2 separate regions of the Homo sapiens genome follow, and region 1 is linked to region 2. Evidence: fine-mapped QTL for protein levels in blood plasma. A gene starts in region 2. The other region holds a variant in brackets. All regions are shown on one strand. Distances are between the middles of the regions. Region 1 overlaps F10 (coagulation factor X). Region 2 holds the start of F10 (coagulation factor X).

Region 1 (2,907 bases), 18 kb before region 2:
ATGTCATTGCCAGTAGCAAGGTCAGCCACAGTGTCTTTCACTTGCTGAGATGTTTCAGGCACATAATTGAAGCAGCGCTTGAAGGATGCATATGGAACCCGGTCTTTTCGTGATCACTCATCTTTGGAAGTAAATTGTTTTCGGTAAGAAGGATATGAAAGGAAGAGTGACAGAACACTCGGGAGTAACCTGTGTCTGGAGGGGACAGTCATGGTAGCCGGGGGCAGAACACGGTCTGGGGGCTGAGCCGCACCTGAAGCCGGAAGGTGAGCTGGGTCACCAGGCTCTTGAAAAGGCGGGCCTGGAACTCTGCCCTTCGAATATGCCCCCGGGTGAGGCCAACGCTGCGGGTCGGGCCAGCTATGAGTGGGAGTGGGGTTGCTGTGCAAGGTGCAGCTGTGACGCCTAGGCCCCGCCTTCGAGGGCCTCATGTGTGCTGGCCGTGTGGAAGTGCCGGCAGCCAGGCAAGCCCAGCGTAGGCAATGCCCACGGGGTCAGGACAGGGAGGCTCGTCCCCACCCTGCCCAGTCCCCTGCCTGTCCTGTGCTCACTGCCCTCTGGCCGCCTGTTGTCCACATTCATCAAGGAAAAGAAAAACTACGTTCAATGAACACTGGTCCTGGTAAAAGGAGCTCAGAGCCTGAGCGTCCCCTGACTCCTATCCCAGCCCCGCACCTTAGCTCCAGTTCCTCGGGCCAGCTCTGCCCTTTGCCTGCCCTGGTGCTTTGAGCCCTTGCACTGGATCCCCCCACAGTCCCAATGCAGACTGAGGGCCTGCGGTGGGCCAGGCATCATGCAAAGTGCTCCAGGGATCACCCAAGCAGTCAGGCAATAGTGTTGGTCCCATTTGTCAGATGGGGAAGCTGAGGTTAAACAGCAGATCTGGCTTACAGAAATAATGGGTCTGTTTCCAAACCTCATGGTCTTCATGTTTGAACCACCTGGGCCCGGAGCCCAGGGCTCAGTCCTGTCCTCTTGGTGTCACTGTTACCTGCCAGGCCCGCCCAGAACATGCCTGTGTCCCCACCCCCTGGCACGGGCTTGTCCTCCCTGGCCCGGCCCAGCGGCAGCGGGTGGCTGTGGCCCAACGTGCCTCCTACCTGTGGGAATGCAGGCCTTGCCGTTGTCAGCCAGGGTGTACCCGCGGGCGCAGGAGCACACCACAGAGTTCTGTTCCT[C/T]GTGGCAGAACTGGTCACAGTCCCCGTTGTCCAGGCTGCAGAGCTTCCGTGTGACTGCAAAGGAGAGGCACGTTGGCTCTGGGGACAGCTGGAGAAATGGAGGCTGGGCTGGCCCAAGGGTGCCAGCTACATCCACTTGCCTGTCAGCCACAAAGCGGCCATTGGGTTGAGCAAAGGGCCAGAGCCAGGCGACAGGTACACTTGCCTTGAAGGGCAACCTCACGGGTCACGGGGAGCTCATGGTGCAGTGCCCGGTGTAGCCAGAAGCCAGGCTCCAGGTACCTGCCCCTCACACCTCCGGGATGGCCGGTACCCCCTGCCCCAGCAGCACTCACATTACGGTCACTCCACATCCCTCTGTGTGGCTTTTGATGAAAAAGTAATCACAGTGCAAAGATCAACATGCCTGAAATTTTAGAAAATGTGCATAATAGCCCTGGGAGCCTGAACAGGGTTATGCCTCATAAGTTACCAAATGGTGTTCCAGGGAGGCGACTGCGGACTTGGAATGGAATGATGCGTAATTGATATTCTCATCAGGGAAAACTCAAAAGTAATCCAATCTAAGAACACAGTCTAAAGATGATCAATTAGGCCGGCGCTGTGCCTCACGCCTGTAATCCCAGCACTTTGGGAGGTCGAAGCGGGCGGATCACCAGGTCAGGAGATCGAGACCATCCTGGCTAACACGGTGAAACCCCGTCTCCACTAAAAAATTAAAAAAAAAAAAAATTAGCCGGGACTGGTGGCCGGGGCCTATAGTCCCAGCTACTTGGGAGGCTGAGGCAGGAGAATGGCGTGAACCTGGCAGGCGGAGCTTGCGGTGAGCTGAGATCGTGCCACTGCACTCTAGCCTGGGCCACAGAGCGAGACTCCATCTCAAAAAAAAAAAAAAAAAAGATGATCAATTAAGTACTTTAAAAGAAATGCAAATCTTTTTCCTTAGGGAAATTGATCTAACAGTAGCCTAACTTTTTATTTAAAACTTAATCACCACATTAGAGAAAGCACTTAGTGATTTTTCCACGTAGAACTAATTAAATGTATCAAATTTTTATAATTGGCCAATCACAAATATTCACAAATATTGACACCTGCATCCATACACATAAATAAGAGGTGATTTAGAATCACTGCACAGGGTCACAAGGAGCAGGAATAACAGGGCAATGCACTTGGCCCCAAGGAAAACAGAGAGTCCACTCCTGTTTACACATGAATGGATCACACGCTTCATCAATGTTCTACAGTCTCTCTCGGAGGAGCAGAGAAGTGACTGTGTCTCTCTCATCATGCCCCCAAACCGAATCGTTTGGGGGACATATTGGGGCTTTTTTTTCTATTGCTATAGTGGCACAGTATAATAGGTATAATAGAGCCCAGACTTTGTAAATCAGAAATGACTTAAGATTGTTTCATTAGGCGTTTTCACTTCTTCCCCCGCCCACCTGCCACTCTTCAGGGGCATCTGATCTGAAGGTATACCAAGCAGAGGAACCTACATAATTCACAGTTTTTGCCTTCGAATCCTTCTAAACAGGTGCAGGTGTATTCCCCGAGGCCGTCTTTACATTTGCCCTGGTTCTGGCAAGGACTGGTCTCACACTGGTCGCCATCTGCAAAGAGAGGATTTCGAAACTGGAGTCTGCAAGCTGTTTCCGGCATCATGGAAACAGTTTTGCTGTGCTAACCTTGGCCCTGCCGTTCAGATAACTGGAAGAGTCTTCCG
Region 2 (2,898 bases):
GCCAGGCCCGCATCACACAGCTAAGGGTGCCAATACCCTGTGGACCCAGAGGTCCGCGAGGTGGGCGCCTGCATTTCCCATTGGCAGGAAGGGAAGCTGGCGCTCCACCAGGACTCTGCATAACTCCCCTAGTTTCCTCCTGTGGGTCTGGGTGGGCTCCTGGCCTGTCTTCTCATCCCCACCCTCTGCTTCTTCCCAGGAAGAGGAGTCCTGCCAACTTCCATTCCCAATAAGCCAGAGCAGCTTCCAGAGTCCCGGGCCGGGCTTAGGGCCTCGGGAGCCCCGGGCCGGGCTTAGGGCCTCAGGATCCTAGAGCATTCCGGCTGCAGAATTTTCTACCAATTCGCGGAAGCATCTGTCTGTTTGCAGAGTAGCTTTGCTGTCGATGATGATGGCATGGGTCCTTCCAGGGCCTTGTTCCACCCACGCTGATCTCATCCCACCACAAGCATCACAGTGGGCTCCTGCAGGGGGCAGTGTGGCCTGAGGGGGAGGAAGAAGGCTGGGCGAGTTGGAGCCACACAGTACCCCATGAAGACGGGAGTCCCGTTCCGCGTGGGAGACAGGAAGATGTGGCTCAGGGGACAGAGGCTGGGGAGGGCAGGGGGTTGAGGGTGGGATGGAGAAGACCCCCGTGTGATGTGACTGGAGCTCCAAGTCACCAGGCGGAGGGGCCGTTTAGGTCAGTGATGCACTGAGGATCCACTCAGCCTTCCCAGGGGTCTCCCCTTTCCACCCCACGAGGGTCTCCCCCTGCTCCGTCTCTCCCTCACACATTCCCTTCCCAGGCCTGGGTCCCCTTGGTGCCCCTGCCTGTCCACTTTGTCCAGGATGCAAACAAGTCTAGGGTCCCTGTCTCTCGTGTCCCCACCAGAGGGGCCTCCTCTTCCTCCGCTGTCCCCAGGCTTGCCTGGCTTCTGTCCTGTCTGGGCCTCTGCTTTTGGACAGACCCGGGGGTCCTGGACAGCCCTGCTGCCCCCACCTGTCCAGCTGTGCATTAGGCAGCTCCTTCCCCGACGGAGCCAGTCCGAGAGTGGTGGCACTGGCTCGGCTCAGCCTCCTCCTCCCTGGGAGCTCCTCTGCTGTGCCCCTCGTCCTGTGCCTCCCTGTGGTGGCAGATGGCTAACTGTCCTGTCTCTGCCTGCCCCAACCCCTCCCTCTCTCTCTGTCTCCGTCTTTCTACCTCTGTCTCTGCCTCTTGGCCTCCCATCTCACTGTGTCTCCGTTTCTCCTTCCCTCTCCCTTTCTCTCTCTGACTCTGTCCTTGTGTTTTTGTCTCTGTGACCTCTGATCCGCCCGTCTGACTCTCAGCCCCAGGGAGCCACAGCTGGCCTTGAGGATGCCGTTGGCTGGAAAGGCCAAGCCCAGCCATCCGAGCCCAGCCTCTGGCAGCACTCAAGGCACCCACCGTCCAGGCTGCAGAGATGAGAGGGTTTCCCCAACTGCCGCCCCTCCCTGCTCCCTGGCGCTGCTTTTGGGTCTGAAGGGCGAGGGGCACTTACGACTTTCCCCGAGCAGCAGGAGGCCAGCCAGGGAGGCACTGAGCAGGACGAGGTGCAGTGGGCGCCCCATGGTGTGGCCGAGTACTGTGTCCCTGTCCTCACTGGGACAGGCTGCTGGAGCAAAGTCCACGCCCCAGCTGGGATGGCTGTTGTCTGGCTGCTTATCACTTGGCTTAGGCCTCCTGATTGGAGCCGAGACCTGCTGGCGAGGCAGGGGAGTGACCACGCTGGGAACACATCCACTCTGGCCCCACCTTCCCCAGGCAGAGCTGGGCGGCCAGAGAGGCCCCGCAGAACCTCATCCTCATCAGTCACCAGGGCCGCGGGTGTGGGGACTTTCTGTTCTAAGAATAAAAACATCATTTCGTGCTCATTTTGTAGTTTCCAGATGTTTACATTTAACTCTCAGTCCTCACATACAAATATCATTTTCCCCATCATTTTTCCAGAAGAGAAAACTAAGTTTAGAGAGCGCAGAAGCCTGAGCCGAGGCCGCTGGCAGTGAGCGTGGGATCTGAGCCCAGGACTTCTGCCCCAAGGCCCTGCTTGTTTCTGGGCGGGCCCTTCCGCTCACAGCCACTCTCTGGGTGGTATCAGGTGGTCTCATGTCACGGGGGGGGCTTGGCATCTGCACCATGGCCTCCCACAGGCCAGGCTGGCACCTGCCCCACCCACCCCCAAACCTTCTGTGCCCGCATGGCCCCAAAACGTACTTCTGTGGGGAGTGACCTTCCCGTGACCATCTGGAGGGACAGGCTGTGTCTGAAGCCCCTCCTGACCTGCCCACCACTGGCCACACTGTTCCGAGGCTGAGAGGGCTTCTGGGCTCGTTCTCCAGTGCAGAAACCTCCCATCACAAGGTCCTGAGTGTCTCTGCTCAATGGCTGTGGGAGTCACTGGGAGGTGCAGCCGGGCTTTTTGCCTCTGGGGTCTCTGGAATAAATGGTCTAAAGCTTGGCCAGTGTGGCGATCACTGCCTGCTATGCCGTAGTGGCCGGGGAGCAATGCCCCTAACACCCACAGCACTGGCCACTGCCTCATGGTGCATCTGCCTTGATGGGTCGCCCTGTCTCGCAGCCACCTGCACATGAGCCTGGTGTGCACACATTGTGCGTCATTGTGCCTGGCACACAGGAGGCACTCACTGAGCCCCACCCGACTGCACAAACTGATGATGCTGGATGCCAACGCCAGGCTGGCCTCCCACGGCGGGCACCACGCACAGCCTGGTCCTCTGAGAAGGGCCTTCCTGGTGGCACCAGATGTCTGACTCCTGCCTCTCCTGGTCTCCACCCTCTGACATCGCCTCTAGGCATGTTTGTATGGAGAGACCAATGCGGTGTGTGCACCAACAGCAGGATGCTCATGGCAGACACGCAGTCTTTGTCATCAATGC

What was found. PIP is the posterior inclusion probability: the model's chance that the variant is causal. The UK Biobank Pharma Proteomics Project read protein levels with antibody pairs (Olink). The fine-mapping took linkage between variants from a reference panel, not from the people measured, so its PIPs are less certain.
Region 1: its variant is fine-mapped to the plasma level of the F10 protein (UK Biobank, PIP above 0.99). The variant lies in the coding sequence of F10. If it changes the protein, the assay may bind it differently, which can mimic a change of level.

Annotation. Positions count from the first base shown.
Region 1 is chr13:113,139,244-113,142,150 of GRCh38, reverse strand. It overlaps F10 (coagulation factor X), which reads right to left. Exons shown (of 8, transcript NM_000504.4): 4 at 2,681-2,794; 5 at 1,101-1,232. It overlaps LOC124903215 (a long non-coding RNA gene), which reads left to right and starts at 2,794. Exons shown (of 2, transcript XR_007063879.1): 1 at 2,794-2,907. The variant C/T (reference allele first, on the strand shown) is at 1,179.
Region 2 is chr13:113,121,530-113,124,427 of GRCh38, reverse strand. F10 (coagulation factor X) reads right to left here and starts at 1,629. Exons shown (of 8, transcript NM_000504.4): 1 at 1,503-1,629. The coding sequence starts at 1,572.